6 separate regions of the Homo sapiens genome follow, and regions 1, 2, 3, 4 and 6 are each linked to region 5. Evidence: fine-mapped expression QTL. A gene starts in region 5. Each other region holds a variant in brackets. All regions are shown on one strand. Distances are from middle to middle.

What was found. PIP is the estimated chance that this variant, and not a neighbour inherited with it, causes the effect. A credible set is the group of variants that fine-mapping cannot tell apart.
Region 1: its variant is the best candidate, but not a certain one, in a credible set for the expression of EMC1 in monocytes (BLUEPRINT, PIP 0.79).
Region 2: its variant is the best candidate, but not a certain one, in a credible set for the expression of EMC1 in lung (GTEx, PIP 0.90).
Region 3: its variant is the best candidate, but not a certain one, in a credible set for the expression of EMC1 in lung (TOPMed, PIP 0.73).
Region 4: its variant is the best candidate, but not a certain one, in a credible set for the expression of EMC1 in nasal epithelium (TOPMed, PIP 0.78).
Region 6: its variant is the best candidate, but not a certain one, in a credible set for the expression of EMC1 in fetal neocortex (Walker 2019, PIP 0.89).

What each region holds. Positions count from the first base shown.
Region 1 is chr1:18,380,258-18,384,360 of GRCh38, reverse strand. No RefSeq gene overlaps it. Among named protein-coding and RNA genes, the nearest start is that of KLHDC7A, 99 kb to the left of the region's middle. RefSeq lists an enhancer at 444-1,243. The variant C/T (reference allele first, on the strand shown) is at 2,110.
Region 2 is chr1:19,064,173-19,068,275 of GRCh38, reverse strand. No RefSeq gene overlaps it. Among named protein-coding and RNA genes, the nearest start is that of IFFO2, 110 kb to the right of the region's middle. The variant A/G (reference allele first, on the strand shown) is at 1,620.
Region 3 is chr1:19,097,460-19,101,545 of GRCh38, reverse strand. UBR4 (ubiquitin protein ligase E3 component n-recognin 4) reads left to right here. Exons shown (of 106, transcript NM_020765.3): 88 at 1-26; 89 at 973-1,170; 90 at 1,869-1,949. Among named protein-coding and RNA genes, the nearest start is that of UBR4, 110 kb to the left of the region's middle. The variant C/T (reference allele first, on the strand shown) is at 2,481.
Region 4 is chr1:19,079,729-19,083,831 of GRCh38, reverse strand. UBR4 (ubiquitin protein ligase E3 component n-recognin 4) reads left to right here. Exons shown (of 106, transcript NM_020765.3): 103 at 2,259-2,483. Among named protein-coding and RNA genes, the nearest start is that of IFFO2, 130 kb to the right of the region's middle. RefSeq lists an enhancer at 1,538-2,737. The variant C/GC (reference allele first, on the strand shown) is at 2,032.
Region 5 is chr1:19,249,633-19,253,632 of GRCh38, reverse strand. EMC1 (ER membrane protein complex subunit 1) reads left to right here and starts at 2,109. Exons shown (of 23, transcript NM_015047.3): 1 at 2,109-2,218. The coding sequence starts at 2,124. MRTO4 (MRT4 homolog, ribosome maturation factor) reads right to left here and starts at 1,828. Exons shown (of 8, transcript NM_016183.4): 1 at 1,770-1,828. The coding sequence starts at 1,797. RefSeq lists an enhancer at 1,691-2,196.
Region 6 is chr1:19,185,440-19,189,542 of GRCh38, reverse strand. It overlaps UBR4 (ubiquitin protein ligase E3 component n-recognin 4), which reads left to right. Exons shown (of 106, transcript NM_020765.3): 12 at 2,003-2,102; 13 at 2,242-2,379; 14 at 2,886-3,003. Among named protein-coding and RNA genes, the nearest start is that of UBR4, 23 kb to the left of the region's middle. The variant TAA/A (reference allele first, on the strand shown) is at 2,465.

The DNA of each region.
Region 1 (4,103 bases), 870 kb after region 5:
TTTTCTGAGGTCAGGACAGTAAATCTGAAAACCCTGCATCACTGTCTTGTGAGGGCAGCCAGTGCCTCTTGGATGGGAGCCACAGTTCACTGCCCTGCGTCTCCCTGCAGACAAGGTAACCATGGCCCAAGATGAAGCTGGCTGCTGGGTCACAGTTACCTGTCAGGGACGGGGCCTCCAGATCCTCTCCTGCTTGGCCAAGAGCCCTGGCCAGGGTATAAGCAAGAGGGATAAAGGTCTCCAGTCTGCGGAGGCGAGAGGGCCAGAGGAGCATGTGACTTCCATTGGGGTGGGGGCTGTTGGGCCCCAGAAGCACAGTGCCCCAATGCTGTGGAGAAGACGGCGACCACAGACTCTGATTCTCTCACAGGCTCCTGGCCAAATGGACCACCATAGAGCCAGCGCCAGCCCTCCTCCCTGGAAGGGGCAGCCTTCCTCCTGGAAGGGGCAGCAATAGGATGAGGGGCATGGCTTCCCCGACTTCCTGTGTCCAGAGTGATGGGGAGGACCCCAGGTGTTCACACTTGAAGAGCCCAGGCCAGATAAAAGATGGGCCCATCTTAGAGCCACCACACACAAGACTGCTAACTACCAGCTGTGGGCACTTCTTGCTGATGAGCCCAACTCTGAGGGCTGATTGCCCAGGAGGCGGGGGCTGAGTCCTGGGCTGATGTGGTGGGTGTTGGTGACAGTGGCCCCCTTGAGACCCAGCAGGTGTCTCTGCATCTACCCGGCCAGCCGGGCACACCTACAGCCAGCAGGGATCAGTGGGCACCTTGGGCCATCCCAAGAGGCAGCTGACCAGCCCAGGGGGCCTCTGCACAGCCAGAGTACCCCTGGGGGAATCTGCAGATGGTGGGTGGTGACCAGGACTCATGACTGGGAAGAGCCATGGGCTGAGGTGGAGTTTCCAAGGAATGGGGAACTTGGTGGTCTGGCCAGGCCCAGCGGCCATGTGTTTGGCCAGTCTATTTTTTTAAAGATGAGGTCTTCTCAGGTGACAATGCAAACCTAACCAGAACTTGGGGCCTTGTCCCTCCTAGTGACCTGCAGCATTTGGGCTGGTGTCTGAGAGATAGCTGAGGCACCTGAACTAACCTGGGGCCAAATTGCATTGGTGGCAGAGTTGACTTTGATGCTCCCTCTTATCCTTCAAGGCCTAGCTGCAATGTCACCATTTCCTAGAAGCCTGCCCTGATGTCCTTGGGCAGAACAGCCTTTCACCCTTTCTGTGCCCCATTGCATCCTCTTCATACTTTTATTCTGATATTTATCACATGGAATTGCAGTGCTCTCTCCCCCAGGTCTGTCATTCCTGATGGATGGGAGCTCTTTAAGGGCAAGGCCTGGCTTGCTTGTCTTTGTGCTTCTCCTGCCTGGCATAGAGCCTGGCCCGGGTGATGCTCAGGGTTTGTCCAATGAGTGAATGAGCGTGTGGATGAATAAATGAGCATCCATCTCCCCTTTCAGGCTGGGCTCTGTTTTGCCCATCGCTGTCCTCCCACTTCTCAATTTCAGGTTGAATAAGCCACCATCTCAGCCTGCTCAGGGCTCAAAGTCCTCAAATTCAAAGCCCAAAGCAGGCAGCCGCCCCAACCCTTTAGCCTTAGGCCTCCCAGCTGGCTCTCTTCGGGCGTGTCCCCTGCCACTTTGCGTGGTTCATCCACTTGCTGCTGAGATATTAATGCCCCTCAGGGGTCAGTGGAGCCCAATGACCATGCTGTGAATGGAGCAAGGCAATTCCAATTTCATGCCTACATGGGCTTCCCTCTGTTAAGAAAAAGAGCGGGAACACATCTTTCTTTTTTTTAAAATTTCCTCCAGAAAACAGGCAAAGGTAGCGTGCAGCAGAGGCTTATGTAGAATTGCTAGCAGACAGTGAGGGGCCAGGTGGTTCCCATGAGACAGAGCAGGGCTTTGGGGAAGAAGGAAGTAGACGGAGGAGGCAGGGGGTACTCTGTTGTTGTTGCCTGCTGATCAGGCCTGGGTGTTTGTACACTGATGATTATCTGAGAGCCTTCAGCAACTGAAAATCATCTACTTCTGTCTTGTTATCAGCTTGCAAAATACAGGCATACAAATATTTATTACTGTTCTCACTGGCCTCCT[C/T]TGACTAATCCCTCTCACATTGATGCTTCAGCGTCCTGAGCAGGTCCTGGTGCCAAGTGCACATCACAGTTTGACTTCCATTGTTTAGCTGGATAGATGCTTTCCCAACCCAGGACTGTGAGCTCCTTGAAGTTTTCTTGCTCATCTCTGCAGCCTGGTGACCAGCACAGTGCTTGGCTCATAGTAGGTCCTTGGGAGGTACTGATTCATTCATTCATCATTCATTCACTCACTCAATAATTTGTTATTGAGCCATGTGCCAGGCTCTGGTCTAAGTGTGAGGATACAGCAGTGCACAATACAGACCTGGTCCCTGTGCTCATGGGGCTGACGTTCTGGCTCAGGGTAGGGAAAGACTGCCAATAAATAAACAAGTAAGTAGAAAAAGCATAGGGTAATAATGCATGCCTTGCAGAGAATTAAATCGAGGGTGGCACGATGGAGAGGGGTGTGGTGGTCAGGTAGGTCTCTCTGAGTGGGAGTTAAGCTGCCATCCAATTGCATGGAGGAGCCAGCCCTGCAAAGGAGAAGAGAATTCCAGGTGGAAGGAACAAGTAGAACAAAGGTCCTCAAGCAGGAGCGGACTTGAAGAATTCAGTGAATGGAAAGATGAGTGTGAATGAAGCAACAGGAGAGAGGGAGTGGGGATGAGACACGTTAGAGGGTCAGGCAGAGCAGACCACATCCAGTCGACCTGTAAAGGGCTCAGATTTGTTTTCTGTGTGATGGGAAGCCAGGGTTCTGAGAAGGAGGTCGCTGTGGCATGACAGATTTAAAAGGATTCCACTGGCTGCTATGTGGGAGACTGGACTGGAGATTGGGGAGGAAATCTGAAGACCAGATTGGAGGCTGAGGTGGTTTTCCAGGCAAGAGGAAGCTTTGTCTAGGTTGGCAGTGGGGAAAGAAAAAAGTGGGTAAATTCTAGATGAGTTTTGAGAGGAAAGCCAACAAGCTATTGGGTTGGATGCGGAAGAATGAGAGAAAGAGATAAATGAAAGATAACAGTGAAATGTTTGACCAAAGCAACTGGGTTGATGGTACTATTTCTAGAGAAGGGGAATGCTAGGGAAGGAGCATGTTTTGGGAGGGAAAGCCAAAAATTGGGTTTTGGCCACATGAAGTTGGAAATGCATATTTGATGTCCAGTGAGGTAGGGGAACCATATTATGAAGTTGGACATCTGAGTCTGGAATTCCAAGGAAAAGTTAGGGAGTCAGAAATTCGAAAGTCAATGTGGAAATTGATTGAAATGGTCATTCAGGACCCGACTTGACCAGGGCCAAATGGGCTATGATGACCACAAGGAGATAGAGCCAATGCTTAATTCTCAGCTTGGTGTGTCTGGCACCTGGAGTTTTTGTAGGGATGTCCCTGATTCTTTAAGACATTTGCACTGTCTGAGAGAGAGGCACAGATGACTCAGTGATGTCTCTGCTGGTTGGAAAGGGAGAAGAAGCACAGGGCATTCATGCAGCAGAAGTGATGAGAGCCATTTCTGGTGATGGAGCCTCCTCCCAGTCCTCCCTCCTCTGGCCACTCTGGCCTGGGCGGAATTCATTCATTTCCATGGGATGAAATAAATGAATGAATAATTTCCATTCATTTCATTTCATGGAAATGAATCATTAAATGGGTCCCAGCTTCTCTGTGGAAGATGCAATGCTCTGGGGTCATCATTCTATTTCCTTCTCCAGGGCACACAGGAAAGCTGCATTTCCCAGCCTCCTTTGCAGTCAGATTGGGCCATGTGACTACTCCTGGCCAATGGGGTATGGACAGGGGTGATTTATGTTCTATTAGGCCTGGGCCTTAATCACATCCTGGGTGATCATATTAGTTTCCTAACTGCTGCTGTAACAAATTGCCACAAACCTAAGTTTAAAAGAATATGGCAAATTTATTCTCTTAGTTTTGGAGTCAGAAGTCTGAAATGAGTCTCATGGGGCTAAACATGTTGGCAGGGCCAGTTCCTTCTGGAAACTCCAGGGGGAGAA
Region 2 (4,103 bases), 190 kb after region 5:
TGGCAGCCTCTCGGGACATTGCCAGAGGTTGGGCAGGCCTCTCAGGAAAAGGGAGATGAGCTTCTGGGGCGCTGGGGTGAGGAAGCTGTGGTGGGAGGTATCTAAGGTCACCACCTCTGACGGTGGTGGGACCCACAGTGGGTATGGGGCAGCAGGATCTGTGCTTTGCTGAGTTTCTGAGTCAGGGGGCTGGGACAGGACCAGAATTAGCCCCAGGTGCCAAGTTTACAGGGGGAAGTCATCCAGAGCCCCGAACTCTCACGCAGGATGGGAGGTGGGGGTGTTCTGGGCATGGGCAGGAGTGAAGGGCACAGGGTCTCAGGCTCATTGTTCTTTGGACTCTGTTCCTTAGATCCCTCTGCTGCCTTTGGCCAATGACCTTGACACCCCATCCACCCCTTCTGTCCACAAGCCAGCTTGGTCCCGACAAGGAGTCCTGGCTGGACCCCTTGTTAGGCTGTTCCCGGCTTCAGAGATCTGGGAACTGTACCAGAGTTGTATTTACTGAGCACCCACTCCAGCAGGATCACCATGCCTCACGTGATCTCCAGTCCTTTTACTGTTGTTCTTCCTGTTTTACAGATGAGGAACCTTAGGCTCAGAGAGGCAAACTCACCTACCCAAGGCTGCACAGCACGTAAGTGAGATGCAGCCTCCCTGTCCAGCCAGCCTGAGCCCTGCTTCTTCACCTGGCCCTGCTCCCCATCTGGTCTGGGCACGGATTGGGTTAGATCATCCCAGCTCCCAGCAGGAGGGCACAGCTCTGGGATCCAGGGTTTGGCCAGGTGCCCAGCAGGCAGGCAGGGCAGCCACAGCCAAGGGTTAACTGGCCGCAGGCTGGGAGCCGTGCTCGGGGCTGGGCGGACAAGGTGCAAGGCCCTGGGAACCAGCTCCAGGCCGGGCTGACAGGGAGCTCCGCAGGCACCCCCATCAGCCCTCGTGCCAGAACAAACAGGGCAATTAGGAGGTGGCTTTTGTTTGGTGGGGCCTGAATGCTGGGCATGGAGCTGCTGGCGCTTCAGCCCCTACCCCCTCATGTGGCGGGAATCTGCTCGTTCACGGGACAGGGTCACATGCGGAGTGTCACAGCAGACAAAAGGACAATGCCACTCTGTTTCCTCGCCCAGTTTCAGAAGTGATGGCTGGAGGGCTGCTGCTTTTCACAGCACAGTGTGAATGGGGCCACCAGTCCCTCCCTCCCTTCCTGTCCCGGCAGCCAAAAGGGCTCCAGTCACCTCAAGAGCCATCGATCACAGGGGTGGCCCAGGCCATGGGACGCGGGCCCAGCACCTTCCCATTTCCCTCGCTCTGGGTTCTGCCTTGGGGCCCCACTTGGAACCCACTGTGCAGGGCTGGATTCCATACCCGACGGTCGTGTCCCGAGTCACCTCTCTGAGGCAGGCACTGTTAATCCCATTCCAATGAGGGAATCGGGGCTCGAGGATGAGGTTGCTTCACCCAAAGGAGGGGCTTGGGTTAGGGCTGCTGGGTGAAATTCAAGGTGCCAAGTTAAATCTGAATCTCACATAAACACCAAATACATGTAAACCTCTGACGGTGGCGGGACCCACAACGGGTATCGGGCAGTGGGATCTGTGCTTTGCTAGGTTCCTGAGCCC[A/G]GTGGGCTGGGACAGGACCAGAATTAGATCCAGGTGCCAAGTTTACAGGGGGCTCAGCCAGCGCCCTGAACTATTACAGTCTTTAGTATGGAGTATACTAAAAAAACATGACTCACCATTTCTCTGAAATACAAACTTCCCTGGACAGCCTGTATTTTTATTGACTAAATCTGGCAGTCCTGGCACAGGTGCTCACAGGACGTGCTGAGTTAAGCCAGCTCAGGCCCTGACCTCAGGGAGCCCCCTCTGCTTCAGAGAGACAAGTCCCAGACACAGGTTCCCACATGGAGGCCGTCGGAGCAGCAGGTGCCCTTGCCTGGAAGCCAGGACAGGCCTGGAGTGTCAGGAACAGGGACGTCGAGGGGCTGGTGAAGGGGCCAATCTGAGCGCCACGAGGGCCCTGAAGTGCTGTGAGCAGGGGAGGCAGGTTCCAGAAGCCTCAGGACCCCGCCTTTCTGCAGCGTTTCCTCTCCACAGGACTGTGCTGAGTCCTGGGGAGGGGGTGGGGGCTGCTCCAGGCGGCTCCCCAGCCCCTCCCTGCCTCGTCTCTCTGAGGCCGCTCCCTCCTCTGCCCCACCACACCTGCCAGCTCTGCATGGGGCCCCGAAGCCAGGGCTGGGTGGAAAGTGGTTGAGGTTGGAGTCTGGGGCCAGATTGGGTTCAGGGCTGGCTGGGCAACAGCCCTTCACCTGGCCAGGCCTTCGGTTTCATGTGTAAAGCAAACATGCCTCATTGGATTCACCAAGAGCCTGGCACAGAGGCGGCGCTGGAAGTGCGTCATTGGAGTTATGAAGGACCTACTCCCAGGAAGGGTCTTCACAGAAGCGGTTTCCGTTCCGTCTAAGGAAAACACAGCTGACAGCAGGGCTCCCACAGTGACAAGAGCTGTTTGGAGGTAGTGAGTCCCCTGTCATTGGAGGTATCCAAGCAGAGGCCAGTCTACTGGCCGTGCCTCAGATGTGTCACTTGGGAGGTGACAATGTCAACGGTCATTTCCAACTCTATGGGCTGGGTGGCAGGTGGAAAGTTCAAGGGCTTTGGTGTCAGACAGTCCTGGGTTCTAATTCTGGCTATGCGACCTTGGACAAGCTGCTTCCCCAGCAACCTCAGTTTTGCCCCTTGTAAAAGGCAGTCAGCAGCCTTGCCTCACAGGATAGATGTGACATGTTTGTTTGCAAAGTGCCCAGCTCTGAGCAGATGCCAAGGAGTTGTGGGTTCTAAGACACATCTCCCTGATGTGGGAACAGAGGCTTCTGAGAAGCCTTCCAGGGCCCGGCTGGGAACCACCCCGTCCTCCTCCCGGTTACCCTGGCTGGCACCCCAGCCGCAGGGTTGGACTGCGGTAAGAATGGCAGACAGGTTTCTCAGAATCCAAACGGACCCTGGGGACAGCGGTGGCTCAGAGGGGAGAGCCCTCTGCCTCCCTGGGGCCTGACGTTCCAGGGTTGGGATGGTGGGGCCCGGAGCCTGGACTGCGCTTGCCTACCTGCCAGGGAAGGCAAGGCAGCCTTGAACCAGAGGGGCGGGCAGGGATGGGCCCAGGCTGGGCTTCCTTCCCTGCCATGTCGTGCTGCTCTGAGCACCACACAGGGTGGCGTCCGGCCTGGGAGAGCCATCAGCACAAGACGGCTGGCATGCCCATGGCTGTTTTCATTCCATTAACTCCTGAAGGGTGGCGGACCCTCAGGGGTCAGATCCAACCAACCTCAGACAGGGAAACTGAGGCCCAGGAGGGGCAGGGCCTTGCACAAGATCATGGTATCAGGCACTACCAGGCCCACAGCCTCATCAAGAAGCGGGCGTAGGTGCTGTTCAGACCAGGGCTGGGCCGCCAGGTGCTTCCCACACCGCAATTACCTGCCAAGGTGTGCCTCGCTCCGTGGGAAGTGCTTACGGGGAGTTTCATCCTATAACCACCCCGTGAGGCCGGCACTATTACTTGCATCTTCCAGACAAGGAAACTGAGGCCACTCCGTCCAAAGTGACAAACAGGGATTTAAGTCCAAATCCAAGACCATCCCCTTTGCCACCTCATCTTGGTCCGCAGTCCAGCTGGACATTACCTGGGAAATATACAGACTTGACTGGCCAGGACTGTGGGGACAGACACAAAGAACTTATTGTCCCAGAGGCTGACCTGGCTGAAAATGGCAGATCAATTCCAGCAGAGCTTACCAAACTGGGGTGGCAAATCCTGCCTGCTTTTGGACAGCCAGCAAGGAAGAATGGTTTTCACATTTGTAAAGGGCTGGAAGAATATGCGACAGATACCAGAGGTGGCCCTCAAAGCCCAAGACATTTCCTGCTTGGCCCTTTCTAGGAAAAGTTGCTAAGCCCTGGCTGAGAAAAAGGCTGGCCCAGGGATCTCTGGAGGATTACAGGAGAGAGACACAGGCCTGGGAACCACCGCGCCTGCCCCAGCGCCCATCCTCCAGGCCACCTGCCCATCTCTCTGCCAATGCTAGGGAGGGAGGCAGCTTAGGT
Region 3 (4,086 bases), 150 kb after region 5:
AGAGGCTCTGCAGCATCATTTATCCTGTAAGCAGTGCGGTGCTTCCCATGGCTCTCGAGTGTCAGCACAGCCCACTTTGCCATGAAGCCTCTTGGTGATTCATTAAAGTTATGGGGAATTGTACCAGCTGTGGGCCACTTAGTCATTAGTGAAAGAAGATCCACCGCCATAAAAGTGAAGCAACCTCATAATTTTCCTCTTGCTAACGATGGGACATTTAATGACCTTCCTTGGTCTTATTTCCTAGATTCAAGTAAAGAATCATGTTTTTTTAAAAACTAGGTCTAACCTCCATTACCAAAATCCCATTGCATATCAATCCAACATACTGTGGAAGAAGCGGTATTGAGCTTGAATATAAAGATATTTTTACTCTCTTCCTTCTTTAGCTGCCCTGTATTTTGTGCACACATGCAGCGTGTGTTTTTTTCCCTAGCCTGAACTGTGTAGAAGCACAGTATCATCCAGAGAACCCTTCCTGCTATTGAGGAAAGATGAACACTAGTATCATGAGCTAGCAATGAGAGCTCATTGGGGGTGTGTACCTGAGTGTCATGTCCCATAGAGAAGCCCTTTTCTTGACTTCAGGGTCATCAGTGACAAAGTCCTCTGGCCCCAAATTGGTTAGCATCACATGAGACCAGCAGGAGGAGGAAGGAAAGTCCCTCCTCGCACCCCTTCCCCGATTTTTTAATATATCTCTCATATGTCACTCCTTGTCTGCTTGTTTTGTTAGGCTTTATCTCCTAATCCACCCTGGGGTTTCAGGGTAGATGCTTGATATTTTAGTCTACTTGAGTTTGTTTAGATTTTTGGAAGTACCTCTGAGTTTCCTGTCCTTTGTATCTTTAAATGTTTGGGGGGCTTGCTGAGTTTGGTGTGTTTTCCTCGAGTGTCCATGGAACAAGGTAGCATGGTATAAATCTCCACCTCTGCCATCCCTTCTGATGCACCCTTCTGTCTGTCCTCCAGGAGGAGAATGAAGTCACTGAGTTCTTTGTGACCCTGGAGAAGGATCCCCAACAAGAAGACTTCTTACAGGGCAGGATGCCTGGGAACCCGTATAGCAGCAATGAGCCAGGCATCGGGCCGCTGATGAGGGATATAAAGAACAAGATTTGCCAGGACTGTGACTTAGTGGCCCTCCTGGAAGATGACAGTGGCATGGAGGTAATGACCATAGGACAGTGCTGCCCACGTTTACGATTAGGGGCTTCCTCCTAGGCTAACCAAATCCAGGTGCTTCTTCCTAGTAGCTGATTAACTTGGGGCAGGTGGCCTTCAGTTTCTCCACTCTGTAAGTTGGGGTTAATGATTCCCACCTTTCTACCTCACCTAGTGCTAAGGTTAATAACCTGTAAAGGGCTCTGCCCAGTGCCTGGCAGGAAGTAAGCATATTGTTAATGGCTGTTGGTTGTAGTGGTGGTGGGTATTTATTATCGTTATTGCCTCTGGCAGAGACTTCTCGGTGAGTCTGAGTTACCTGAGCCCCCTAAATATTGGCGTTTTACCCCCTGTGCAGGTTTATGTCCCCGTGTCAGTTACTTTCTGGCAGACCGTTGAGGGTCTGACATTTTTACATAGTGAAAAGCCTTTTCTGGTGCTGAGCCTGCAGGAGAAGGTCCCCGGTGGGTGTGTCTAAGCTGGAGCCTGTGTGTGGGTTAGGGACGTTAGCAGCCCCTGAAATTGTGCACAAAATTCTGTGTGTTTTTCATACGTGCGGATTTTTTAAGAGTGGGAGAGTTGATAGGTCCATGACATATAAAAATTGTGAATTATCAACCATTGCCGTAAGGTGCCCTTTGCTCTTGGATTTTACTTGTCTTACAATTATTTGGAACAACAGCTTCACCTGCTTTTCTGTTCAGCTTCTAGTGAACAATAAAATCATTAGTTTGGACCTTCCTGTGGCTGAAGTTTACAAGAAAGTCTGGTGTACCACGAATGAGGTATGTGCCTGCTTTCTCGTTTGGAGGTGTGGTTTCACTTTTCTGACTTATGCAGACTTGTACCAGCAGGAGCCATTGTTCATCATCACTTACCTGGCTTGTAGCAGCTCTCTAAGGCTTTACTGTCCCTGTTTGGGGTTGTGTGGAGAAAACCAATCTTGTTTTCCTTTGGAGGCATCTGACTAATGGAGGGACATTTAATGACCTTCATGAAGCTTCAGGAAAGCAAAAGCATTTTGCTGGGCTGTGCAAGTTGTCAAACCCCAAGAACTGAAAGCCAGGGGGTGTCGAAGGAGGCTCTGTGCTGGGAATGCTTGCTGTCTTGTTCCCTTCAGTATGGACACCTCTCAGCTGAGATTAGTTCTCAGCTTTTATGGGCCTGCTCGCTTAGTAGAACATTTTTCCAGTAGCTGTGTCAAGGAGCATCATTTCTGTTTTACTAGTTGGGGAATGGAGGCTCAAACAGGCAGTTATTCTTGAGGAGGGGAAAAGGGAAATGAAGGAAGTCCAGCGCTCTGGGCCTTTTGGCCA[C/T]CACGAGTGATGCTGTTTGTCCACTTATGGAAGTATTAGATGGTCCCCTTCACCTTTCCCTCCTTTCTTACTCTCTGTTCCTTCCATTCCTCTCTTCCTGTTTCTTTTTCTTCCCCTCCATTTCTCTCTCCCCCTGCCATTTCTTCCCTTCTCTTGTTTCTATTGGGAGGAGAGGTCTTTAGCACATGAATCAGATAAGTAACTTAATTACAGCAAACTAGTGTAGCAGGGATGCACAGCAAACTTTTCTAGACTTGGTCCCAAATACTTCTGTAGAGTTTGAGAAACTAAATTGGCAGTATACTATTTGTAGATTTTGATCTTCAATTTGTTACATATTTCCGCCTCTCTCCTTTCTTTTCTCCCACTGGGCTGGGAATCCTGCTTACTGTTGACTGTTGGTCTACTGCCAGTGGGGTCGTTGTTGCACTGTTGGCTGAGGGACAGGCAGAGAACTGTCCCAGCCAGTACCTCTTGTTACAGACATTGTAGCATCAAAACAGAACAATACAGATTTAATCCCTGATGCATATAAAAAATTAAGACCAAGCTTCTGTGGGCACTCTGGTAAATGGTGGTAGTGAACCCACAGAATGCACCAGGGTATCTCCCTTGAATGGTGAAGCAAGATAGAAGTTGAGAATCATTTGCCCCTCACATTGATGTGCTTAATCCAGTTAGAAGGTTTTCTGGCAAAGTTCTGAGTTTGTGATAGCCTATGTTCTGGGACTTCAGCTTCCCTTCTCTACCTTGCCCTCCATTTCCCTGATAAGCAGCCTACCTCTGTAGCTACTGACTAGAACTAGAACCTGCTCTGTGTTCAGTGTCTGTGGTGGTTCTCTCTGAGGAATTCTCACTGGGCTTCTATAGCCGGAAACACTTCTGCAACTGGCCTTTCTGGCAGGTTGTCTTCCTCCAGGGTGTCCTGTCCTGAAGCTCAGCATAGACTTGGAGGCAGGCTGCTTGAATTAGCGTGCTACCAAATCCCCCACTGGATTTCATCAGTGGTTACTTTGAGCTCCAATTTCTAGTCTGCAAAATGAGAATAATATTAATATATGTGCTCAGTGCCAGACATACAGGGAACTTTCCTTATTCTCCAATTTAGTGAAGTTGCTGTAATTTTGTCATTTATAAAAGACTTGATTCTTATCATTCTAGTCAGATTGTGGGTTTAGCTTAAAGAATTGTGGATGAACCCCCTCCTTGTATGGTTATATAAAGACGTCTGAATCTCTGTAGGTAAAGATTGATGTACTCTCTTTTCCTGTTTTGATTCCCGAGGCTTGAGTCAAAGCTCTTTGATTTAAATGGCCTTGTTTGTCCTGGGTAGTAGTCCCTATTGATTGGAGACAGTTTCTACTCCTGAGGAAGGTCCAGGCTTGGAATTAGACCTCCGCTTATAGCTTGGTAACCTTGAACAAGCTGTGTAACCTTATGTAAAAGGATCATAGAAAGTACTTAATTAGCATAGGACCTGGCACAGAGTAAAACATTCAATAAATATTTGTTAGATTATTACATAGTGTTCTAATGAAATTGAAGGAGATAGTGTCTTTAAAATGTTTCATACAATGTCTAGCTTCTAGTAGACACAAAATAAAAT
Region 4 (4,103 bases), 170 kb after region 5:
AAAGAAGCACTTAGGCCAGGCACGGTGGCTCACGCCTGTCATCCCAGCACTTGGGAGGCCAAGGTAAGAGGATTGCTTGAGCCCAGCCTAAGCAACATAGCAAGACTCTGTCTTAATGAAAAAAACAATTGTTTTAAATTAGCCAGGCTCACACCTGTAGTCCCAGCTATTCGGGAGACTGAGGTGAGAGGATGGCTTGAGCCAAGGAGGTTGAGGCTGCAGTGAGTCGTGATCACACCACTGCACTCCAGCCTGTGTGACAGAGCAAGACCATGTCTCAAAGAAAAAAAAATTAGGAGATTGACTATCCTTTAGCTCTTCCATTTAATTCACTGTTTCATGCTTGTAGGCCCCATCTCCTAGCAAGAGGCTTACGGTTCCCTGTTGAAAGGTTGTGTACAGCTCACCCCGGGTAGCTGCAGCACAGTTTAGGCAACAGGACAATCTGTCTCTTGTCTTTTCTAGTTCTTTCTCTTCAACAATGTTATCTTTTCCTTCCCTCCCATTTCCTTGTGAGTTAAAAGGCTGACCTCGAGACCACAGGCTTCATTGTTAAAACACGCAGGGGCAGGTTGACATCAGAGTGCATTACATCATCTGCTGAACTGCTTAGACTGGCGGGAGCAGCACCTGGCAGCACTGATGGCGCAGACCTTCCCACTGTCCAAATTTCGCTCCTTCTCAGTGTTCCTGGGGCCCTGGACAGAGCCCTGGGTGACTAGGTGTCAGTATGTTTCTGAACAAGCCAGACATTTGTAATTGTCAGGTCCCTTCATTGGAAAGGGAATTGGCTGTCTCACAGTTTCTTTGGTCAGCCAGAGGCTGACCCAGAAGCTTCACAGAGAGGCCTTGCTTCTCGGCCCAGACTGCTTCCCAGTCGACAGCTATCCAATTGACATTGGTGGGAGCTTGGTCACAGTGGGGCTGAGTGCCTTTGGTGGAATATTTGTTTATGGAGGCAAGTATGTCACAGCATGGCCACCGTAAGCCAGACCAGAGCCTGAGCAGATCCTGCAGCAGCCAACAGCCTCAGATTCCCTACAGGGCTGGAAGATCAAGTTGAATGTATCCATCCATGCCCATCTGCAGGCAGCAGAAGCAGGCAGGGTGTCCTTGCACCCTCTCCTCCTGCTTTCCCAGAGTCCAGCATCTGTGCCAGTGCCACCTATAGACCTGGTAACTTTTTTTTCCCGGTTCTAGTGTTGTGTTTGTCCCCACCTCTCCCTACCAGTGCCCCATGGAGTTAGGATAGGGCATCAAGCATTCATGGCATGAGAGCACCATTCAGGATCTAAGGAGAGAGTGTACCCAGAAGCGTGTCATCAGGAAGGACTTAAGTCACCTCTCAGTGCTGATTCCGTGACCTTTTGTCAAAGCTTCAGCGTGGAGAAGGAGGTAGGGTTAAGATGGACAGGCTACCTGGCTTCAGAACACAGTTTTTTCCACGATGTGAGACTTGGGCAGAATCCTTACCTCCTCTGTACTGCAGTTTTCTGTTTCTTTAAAATTGGGATAGTGGTGGCACTATCCCATAGCATTCTTGTGAGTACTAAGTGAAATAATCCCGTAAAGCACTTAGAGCAGTGCCTGGCACTGAGTCTGGTGTGGTCATCATCATCATCATCATTGCAACTTAGGACGCATGAGGACAAGAAGCAGCGCTCATCTGGAAGAGGCTGTTCTAACGAAGGCGGGAGGATCCTAGATCAGAAGAAGACAAACCGGAAGAGGGAGCCTAGGAAAGGAACCACATGCACATTTAGTGCAAACCATGTAAACATAACATAACAAGACTATGTGGAGCAAGGGGGAGTCAGGCTGTGGACCCACCAGGGAATCTTGATTCATGTTTTTGGCCCCATCACTCACTAGCTTGCTGACTTTGGGCAAGTCACTTCACTTTTCTGGGCCTCTGGAGTTACTAGCACAGTTCCATGTTGGGGAGATTGTGAACGTCCCTGATATATGGTGCTCAGGAACCAGTAGTTGCTTGGAATTGTATTAGAGCTGGGGTAGGAGCTAGACATGGGG[C/GC]CAGGGAAGAAGGGAAGATGCCGCGAAGAAGGGCCTGGAAGGGGACGAAGGGCGTGGATTATCAGAGGAAGTGGGAGTAGTCGGCAAGGATGGGTGGGGAGTGTTGAGTCATCCAAGCGTTCAGCAAATGTCACAAGACAACGACAAATTGAGCAAATTCTTCCTGCTCTTGCTGCCGGGTCCTGCTTCCACCCTGCTTTTATTTTATCATGCCGCTTTTCTTCTAGAACCCGAGCAACTTCCCGAGAAGAGAAGAACCTCCAAGGCTTTCTGGAACAGCCCAAGGAGAAGTGGGTGGAGAGTGCCTTTGAAGTGGACGGGCCCTACTATTTCACAGTCTTGGCCCTTCACATCCTGCCCCCTGAGCAGTGGAGAGCCACACGTGTGGAAATCTTGCGGAGGCTGTTGGTGACCTCGCAGGCTCGGGCAGTGGCTCCAGGTGGAGCCACCAGGTCAGTACCTGCTTCCGGAAGCTGCTGCTCACTATTTCCCATCATCAGTTTTGAAAAGCTGCTTAGTGGTACGCACGTGCTAGGTGAAGGCATGCTTTGTGACTGCGGTGGTTGACACCAGCCCTTCTCCCTTCTCAGTCTGTCATGTCAAGAGTCTAAGCTGATGGCTGGCAGGTTGCCTGGTCATTTCTGGGTTTTCTGTTCCGCTACTAGAAAGGTAGAGCCAGTCTTACCTACTGTAGAAAATGTTAGGAAGGCAGCCAGGCACAGGGTGATAAAACCAATGAGATGATCAGGGCTAAGAACAGTAATCAGGTTTTCCACATCTTGCTGGTGTTGGCATAAGCCAGGAAAGTTTCAGTGTGGCCACATGGGGTATTTTCTAATAATTAAAAACTCGTCTTCATTCTCTCTTCTTGGTTACATTCCTATCCCATGCGTCCCACATTCCATGAACCTTTCTTCCTCTAGACCACTCTCCTATACGTGTGGACACCTCCCCAAGAAAGAGCATGTCAGAAAGGAAGTGGTCTTTGATTTATGACCTTGGGCTGTGATTTGGGACAGATGGTCTCAAGAGAAACAGCTGGAAACTGCCACCACAGCATCTCTTTGAGGACCCCCATGGATTGCTGTGCGCAGAGGAGACCCCATGGGTACCACTCAGGCTGCCAATGGCCCCACACAGTCTCTACCTTTCCTGGGGAGCTACGGAGCAGGCTCTGGGTTTGGCATTTTGCTTCTGTCCCTCGAGTGAAATGTGCCTCTGCTTCATTTCTGGAAGATCGGGTTTGTGATTTTTGTGATTCTGCTTTAGCCCAGGATTCGAGGGATCATGTCCACATTTGTAGGCCATCCAGGGAGCAGAGAGAAACTTTTAGGGCCGTGATAAAGACAAGCCAAGTGGAAAATAGCCTGTGCCCTCATTGGCACACCTGGTGTCTTTATTTCCATTAGCCCTGATTGATCAAGCGTTGCTGGTCTGTGGGCACTTCACGCTCCCAGAGAGACCAGATTGGAGCTGTCCTGTTGAATCTGGCCTGTACCAGATCATCACTGGAGAGTGGGAGGGGGCGTCTTGTTAGATTCCTAGGTAACCCCTGCCCCCATTCCTAACATATCACTTTCCAGTATTTCCCAAGAGCCTGAATTAATAGTTAACTAGCTGCTGGAAATCAAAAGTTAGATCTTGAGAATACTAAGTTGATAAGTCAGGCTTGGCCAGTATCCATATGCTGCATCCACAGCAAATAGAGTGGCCATTTATTGGGCACAGTCTCTCCATGGCGGGTGTGCAATCTGAACCCACAGGAGCTGTTTTGCTCTCACTTAGGAGACTAGCATTCATTATTGTCCCAGGCAGTTCAGGAAAAGCTGATTTGGTCACAGCTTAATTAGGAAATCCAGTGTGAGCTACTACATTCATGAGTTGCTGTTTTCTCTGTAGCAGTTTCGTCACCTTTACTAATTGGCCTTAAATAATTAAGTTGGGCAGGGTCACTCAGGATTTCTGCTTACCAAAGCACAACAGCCACAGCAAAGGGCCAAATACGGCCGTGGTCCGGGGCCGTGAGCCCGGCACTCATCAGGCAGACTAGGAAAGGCACTGTGGGTTAGCCC
Region 5 (4,000 bases):
ATACCTTTGGCTCAAGCCAGCATCACCCTGTCTTGGATTAATGCTGGTCTCACTGCTTCCATTCCTGCCCTCTGCCCTGTCTTCCCCAACTATTCTCACCAAGGCAACCAGAGTGACCCTTCATAAGTAAAGGTAAATCACATGGGTCCTCTGCTACTCACTTCACCTGGGCAGGAAAGCCAATGCCTTGCCAAGGCCGAGGAAGTCCTGCCCTCTCTGCCTAACTCCCTCCCCAAACTCTATTTGGCTCCTTCTGCTCCAGCCTCACTGGCCTCTTGTCCCAAACACGTCATATCTGCTCCCATTTCAGAGCCTTTTCACTTCAGGTTCCCTCTACTTGGAACAGCATTCTCCCAGATAATTCCACAGCTGCTCAATTCCACAGGTTGCTCGCTTCCTTTCTTTATTTTCTGCTCATTTGTCACTTCATCAGTGAGACCTTTCCCGACCACACTATACAAAATATCAACATCTCTTCACCCCATTTTCAATCTGATTTTTAGCATTTTGCGGAATATGTTTCTCCTAAAACGTTAGGCTCGATAAGAAATAGGCTTTCCTTGTGACTGCTGTATCCTCTAACGCCTAGAAAGTGCCAGACCCCTAAATATTTTTGAATATTCCAGGGAGCCGGGTTAAGAGAGAGGCCACCACAGCAAAGGTGGTCAAAAACGGTCTCTTAAGAGGTGCGCAAGTCGGGTGTAGTGGCTCACGCCTGTAATCCCAGCACTCAGGGAGGGTGGTTGGAGCCCAGGTGTTCGAGACCAGCTTGGCAACACACTGAGTCTTCTCTATAAAAAATAAACAAAAAAAACCTAGCTGGGTGTGGTGGCGTGCGCCTGTAGTCTCAGCTACTCGGGAGGTTGAGGTGGGAGGATCGCTTAAGCCAAGGAGGTCAAGGCTGCAGTGACTTATTTTATTTATTTATTTTTGAGACGGAGTCTCGCTCTGTCGTGCCCAGGCTGCAGTACAGTGGAGCGATCTCGGCTCATTGCAACCTCCGCCTCCCGGATTCAAGCGATTCTCCCGCCTCAGTCTCCCAAGTAGCTGGGATTACAGGCACCTGCCACCATGCCCATCTAATTTTTAGTATTTTTAGTAGAAAAGGGGTTTCACCATATTGGCCAGGCTGGTCGGGAACTCCCGACCTCAGATGATTCGCCCGCCTCGGCCTCCCAGAGTGCTGGGATTACAGGCGTGAGCCACCGCATCCGGCCTGCAGTGTTACGATCGCGCCACTGCACTCCAGCCTGGGCAACAGAGCGAGACCCTGTCTCAGAGGGATCCTATTAACTGACAACTAAGAAGGCGCAAACCATACGAAGATGTAAGCATGCCAGGCAGAAACAACCGCAGACACACAACGCCAGACACGGGAACAAACCTGTGCTGAAAGAAGGGAAAGGCAGCCAGGGTGGCGGGAGCGCAGGAAGATGAGAAAGGGCCGAAGTTGGGAAAAGTGGGCCGAAACGGCAGCAGGCATAGCCGGGGGCGGTGTTCAGGAGCTGCCTCCCGACCCAGTTGGCCTTGCAAGAGCACCTGAAACTAGGCAAAACGAGTCTCCGCTCCCCAGACCCGACCGGGCGTCAGCCACCTCTGGCGGTTTTACAGCCCCGAAGCCCCCATTCCAGCTCGCAGCGAGGCAGCGGAACACCTCGAGGATGTCCTGGCGTTCCAATCTGCGCCCCCGCCGCCCCGAAGCCCTCACCGCAGGCTGGGTAGCCAGCCCACGGAGCTCCCCCCAGGGTCCCGACTCCCCCTTCGCCCACCTTTCTTGTCGCGCTTGGATTTGGGCATCGCGCTGAATCCACGTGCGGCGGAAGACGGTGCACCCCGTTAGGACCCCGGCGGCGCGGGGGACTCTGGGACGGCCCTCGGGGGCTGCCCCTCGCGTGTGCCTGACCCAATGTGCACTGCAGCCTGCCTCTCCCTGCCAAGCCGCCGCCTGCGCTTTCTCCCGCGCCTGTAGGGCAACTTCCCGTGTGCCGAGGCAGTCCCTGAATCCCGAGCGTCCCGTCCGACCGAGGGCCTCGCGCGCTATCCCAGCTCTGTGGTCCCGCGGAGGCGGAGCCCGCGGCGCGGTGCATGCCGGGACGGCGGTGGGTGGTGCATGCGCTCGCATCATGGCGGCTGAGTGGGCTTCTCGTTTCTGGCTTTGGGCTACGCTGCTGATTCCTGCGGCCGCGGTCTACGAAGACCAAGTGGGCAAGTTTGATTGGTGCGTACGTGTGGAACATATTCGAGAGATAAGTGGCTGTTTCCCCAGTACCTGTCTCCTACCTGCTAAAGGTTGTCACTTAACAGGATTGGCCGCATAATTTGCAGGACCCAGTACAAAATGAAAACGTGGGGCCCCTTGTTAAAAAATTATTAAGGATTTAAAGTCGTTGGAAGCAGAGCCTTAAACCAAGTGTTAGGGGTCATTCTAAGCTGATCCTTGCGTGTAAGCCGGCCCTGCCATCCAGGAATGCTTGGGGTGCCGGTCAGAGATCACTGATCCCGTCCTCCCTCGTCAGGTTCGATTTTTTTGACTGTGAGGTTTCTGGTCTACCAGGTGTCAGAGGTCGCCAAGCTGTCAGTGAACTTTAATTCCTACTCGAATTGGTGTCTTGTAGGCAAGTGAACAGGAGCTTTCGTCTTAAAAGTCCTAAACTGAGTCCTTTTCCCCTCTCATCAACCTAGTCTGGCCCTGGGCTCACAGCAGGATTGCCCAAAACACTAAGCAGCTAGAATATGCCATTCACTCATTCATTCATTCACCCACCCACGTCTTCCTTAAGGCCCTGGAGTAGCTTGCTTTTGTTTGAATTTTACTAGTTAAGACTTGTGTGATCTTGGGGAAAGTGACTTAACCACTCTGTGCCTTGGTTTCTTTGTCTGTAGAATGGGTTTACTAACAGTCCGTTATCTCTTACAGTACTTGTGAGAATGAATGAGACAATCCCATTAAATTACTTAGCACAATGCCTGGCTCATTGAATGCAGTCATTAAGCGTTATCTGTTATTATTGCTATTTACACTTTATTCTTCAGGGCCCAGGTCAGATTTCTCCTCCTCTGAAGTATTTTCTGTCTTGGAAAAGTTGATTCGCATATATGTTGAGTACCTGTTATGCCAGACAGTGTGACAAATAAAACATGTTACATTTTTAATGATGTGCACAACTGTTCACAATGTCATATGTGTATGTTACACATATATATCGGGTGATATGTGTATCTAATTTTGCAGAATACTTGATATATGCAATTTTCTTAATTTTATTTTCATGAATGAATGAATGAATGAATGGCATTTCCTAACTGCTTAGTGTCTTGGGCAGCTCTGCTCTGAGCCCAGGGCCAGGTTAGGCTGATGAGGGGGGAAAAGGACTCTGTTTAAGACTTTTTTTTTTTTTTTTTTTTTTTTTTTTTGAGACAGTTTTGCTCTTGTTGCCCAGGCTGGAGTGTAATGGCGCGATCTCATGGCTCACCACAACCTCCGCCTCTGGGGTTCAAGCGATTCTCCTGCCTCAGCCTCCCGAGTAGCTGGGATTACAGGCATGCGCCACCACACCCAGCTAATTTTTGTATTTTTGGTAGAGACAGGGTTTCTCCATGTTGGTCAGGCTGGTCTCAAACTCCCGATCTCAGGTAATCCACCCGCCTAGGCCTCCCAAAGTGTTGGAATTACAGGTGGGAGCCACTGCGCCCAGCCAAGACTTTTTAAAATTTTTTGAGACAGGGACTCATTCTGTAGCCCAGGCTGGAGTACAGTACTATCATGGCTCACTGCAGCTTTGACCTTGCAGGTTCAAGTGACCCTCCCAGCTCAGCCTCCTGAGTAGCTGGGACTACTGGTGCACACCTCTCCAGTTTCTTTGTATTTTTTGTAGAGACGGGGTTTTGCCATGTTGCCCAGGCTGGTCTTGAACACCTGGGCTCAAGCAATCTGGCTGCCTCGGCCTCCCAAAGTGCTGGGATTACAGGTGTGAGCCACTGCACCTGGCCTACAGTTTTC
Region 6 (4,103 bases), 64 kb after region 5:
TCAGTGTATATGAAATACTGCATCATCTTTTCAGTGACACTATTAAAATGTCTAAGTTTTTAATGGCCAGCAGTATTCCACTATGTAAATATACCGTAGTTGCCTAATTCCCCTATTGCTAAGCGCTTATTTAGATTGTTCCAAATGTCTTGTTTTGATAACTTCCTGAAATATAAACTTTTGGGAACTTAATTGTCCTGTTGGGATGAATTCCCAAAAGTACCGTTGTTAGGACAAAGGGCTCACATATTTAAACATTGGAAATGTTTTGTCAAACTACTCGTTAGAAAAGTAACACTAATCTGCATTGACACCAGCTGTGTGCTTATATGCCCATTTCCCCATGCTCTCTTTGACAATGGGCATCATTAGTCTTCATGTTTGCTTGTCTTAGAGGAGAGAATGCTATGATATTTCATGTATTTGTATTTCTTTGATTACTAATGTGATTGTATTTCCTTTCACCTATTTATTGGTCATTTGTATTTCTTTTGTAAACTGCCTTATGTCCTTTGCCTTGGTTTTCTTTTTGGTATTTGTCATTTTCTTTTTAATTTTTTTATTATTATTTTTACAGAGGTAGAGTCACTTTGTCTCCTAGGCTAGAGTGCAATGGTAGGATTATAGCTCACTGTAACCTTGAACTCCTGGGCTCTGGTGATCCTCCCACCTCAGCCTCCTGAGTAGCTAGGACTACAGGTGTGCACCACCATGCCCAGCTAATTTTTAAAATTTTTTGCAGAGATGGGATCTTGCTGTGTTGACCAGGCTGGTCTTGCACTCTTGGCCCCAAGCAATCCTCCTGCCTTGGCCTCCCAAAGTGCTGGGATAATAGATGTGAGCCACCGCATCTGGCCTGTGTTTGTTCTTTTTTCTTTTTGATTTATATGAACTTGCAAATCATATATATTAACCTTTTGTTATGTGGAGATTTTGGACAGGAGGAAAACACTTTACTTGAATGTAATTTTCTTTTCTCTCTTTTGTTTTAAACAAAACCTCACTCTATCGCCCAGGTTGGAGTGCAGTAGTATGAACACAGTTCACTGCAGCCTCCACCTCCTGGGCTCAAGTGATCCTTCTGCCCCGGCCTGTTGGGTAGCTGGCACCACAGGTGTGCCTCACCACTTCTGGCTAAGTTTTTCATATTTTGTAGAGATGGGGTCTTGCCATGTTGCCCAGGTTGGTCTTGAACTTCTGGGCTCAAGTGATCTTCCCACCTTGGCCTCCCCAAGTGCTGGGATTATAGGCATGAGCCACTGCTCCAGGCCTCTCTTTTTATTCTCTTAGATTTGTTTCCAGATATTTTATAGAAGTTGGTAATTCAAACCTTTTTCTTTTCAAAATAATGATTCTTTAAAAGTTCAATCTACATTTAAAAGTCAGCATCTTTGTATAACCCATTAGCCTTGAACTGATTGTTTAAATTCCAAAAATTTTTCCATTTGGGAGTTTCTTCTATTCCAGGAGGTTTTATTTATTTATTTATTTATTTATTTATTTATTTATTTAATTTTTTGTTTTGAGACAAGGTCTTGTTCTGTCACCCAGGCTGGAGTGCAGTGGTGCACCTCAGCCTCCCAAGTAGCTGGTACCATAGGTACATGCCACCATGCCTGGGTAACTTTTTAATTTTTTTGTAGAGACAGGGTCTCCCTCTCTAGGTTGCCAAGCTGGTCTAAAATTGCTGGGCATAAGTGATCCTCTCATCTCGGCCTCTCAAAAGTGTTGGGATTTAAGGTGTGAGCCACCGTGCCCAGCCTAGTCCAGGAGTTCTAAACCTGAAGCCTGCAGATCCTTAGGCCATCTGTGGATGGGGTTCAAGGAGATTGTGAACTTCAGAAATTATATGCAGATGTATGTATGTACAATTTTTTTTTTCTGAAGGTCCACAGAGTCTGAAAGGGGTCTGAAACCCCAAAATGGCAAGATCCACTGCTTCAGAAGTTGTAATTTATTGTTAATTATTTTAAGGATTGTGTTTTCCTTTTTCTTTGTGTAGGCATCAGGGATTTGGGGTACTCTCAGTAATATTGGCAAACCATGCCATCAAACTGCTAACGTCTCTCTTTCAAGACCTACAAGTGGAGGCCCTTCACAAGGTGAGGAGGTTATCCCCATGGTAATCAGCATATTGATTGCGGGATCCACTTCTGGCCAAGCAAGCTTGATCCATCAACTCAAGTTGTTTTTTCTGGCTGAGTAGTATCATTAATTGCCCTTTGATATCATTGCCTTCAGGGTTGGGAGACAGATGGCCCCCCTGCAGCCTTGAGCATTATGGCCCAGAGCACCTCCATACAGAGGATTCAACGGCTGATTGACTCTGTCCCACTGATGAACCTGCTCTTGACGTTACTTTCAACTTCCTACAGAAAGGTGGGTGGGAGTTAAGCCATTGATAATTTAGAAGAATGTCTCATTTTATATATATGATATATATATGTATATATATATATATATA[TAA/A]AACTTTCTTGAAATGAATAAGACTGACTACACACCATGACCTTTATAGACCCAAAGTTTTGGTACTGGTGTTGAAGAAGTGAAAAATTCTTAGCGGGTTGAATCTATCCAAACATTTGAATCAGTTATTAATTATCAGTTTTGTGATACACGTGGCTACTTGGTGATTTGTGATGATTGGCATACTGAAGCAGAAGCATAGAGGACACTATGGAAACACTCCTGTTTTCAATTCTTGTCCACGTCTCTGGTTGGTAGTGTTTTTGTAGGGTAAAGTGATGAAAGTCCTTAATTAAGGGAGCTATTAAGAGGCATACTCTTGGATTTAGGAAAAAATAAAAGAGATTATGGAGAAAGTTTTCATGCGATGCATGAGATTAAATAGGATGGCTCCGGTTTTGTAATTGTCATTTTCCTAGGCATGTGTCCTGCAGCGGCAGAGGAAGGGCTCCATGAGCAGCGATGCCAGCGCCTCCACCGACTCCAATACTTACTATGAGGACGATTTCAGTAGCACGGAGGAGGACAGCAGCCAAGGTAGAGGCCGCTCTTTTCTCTCTCCCAGAGATAAGCTATAGAGTGCAACAGGAGTGTTCTCAGCAGATTCCTGTAGTTTCCTGACCAAACAAAAGTTTCCATTTTGTTTTCACCTGCTTAGCCTGGACCTTGGTTTTATGTGCATTCAAAGATGACATGTTATTTAAGAGCAAGTTGAGCTGTTGATGAATGAATGATGGAAACAACTTTCAGCCAAGCCTGGGTTACTTTTCATTCCTTTCCCTCCAAAATCAGAAAACATCTCAATTGTTCCATATTTCTTCCTGTGTTGACTCATTTTGTGACCTCTGCTCTAAGCTTTCTCAGTGAAACTCAAAAGGTCACATGTGAGGTGTTCGGTTTGGATGTTATCATAGTCATAGTTTAGGGAAGCTTGAGTAGAGAAACCTAATCCTGTTGTAGTGAACCCACTGGCATGCCCTCCTGCCTTAGTTTGATGAGAGAATGAATAAGGTAAGTACCTCAGATTCTTTCATAATCAGGTTTGTGGGAACAATGTGAAATACGAAGGGAGGTGTGATTCTTACCGTCCTGTGATTTATGGTTGATAAGGCAAGTATAAATTCGCTCTTGAAAATATTTGGCTTGTTACCAGTAAAATAATGTGAAGTTGTTTTTCTTTCTTTGTTGGGCTCCTTAAAGAAAAATTGGCTGGGCGCGGTGGCTCACACCTGTAATCCCAGCACTTTGGGAGGCTGAGGTGGGCAGATCACAAGGTCAGGAGTTCGAGACCAGCCTGGCCAATATGGTGAAACCCCATCTCTACTAAAAATCAAAAATTAGCCAGGCACATGCCTGTAGCCTGTAGTCCCAGCTACTCGGGAGACTGAGGCAGGAGAATCGCTTGAACCTGGGAGGTGGAGGTTGCGGCGAGCCAATATTGCACCACTGCACTCCAGCCTGGGTGACAGAGCGAGACTCCCTCTCAAAAAAAAAAAAAAAAAAGAAAAAAGAAATCAGTTTTATTGGGGTATAATTTACATGCAATAATGTGAGAAATTCTTAACGGGTTGAATCTATCCAAACATTTGAATCAGTTATTGATGATCAGTTTTGCTCTTATTTTATGTATGCATTTA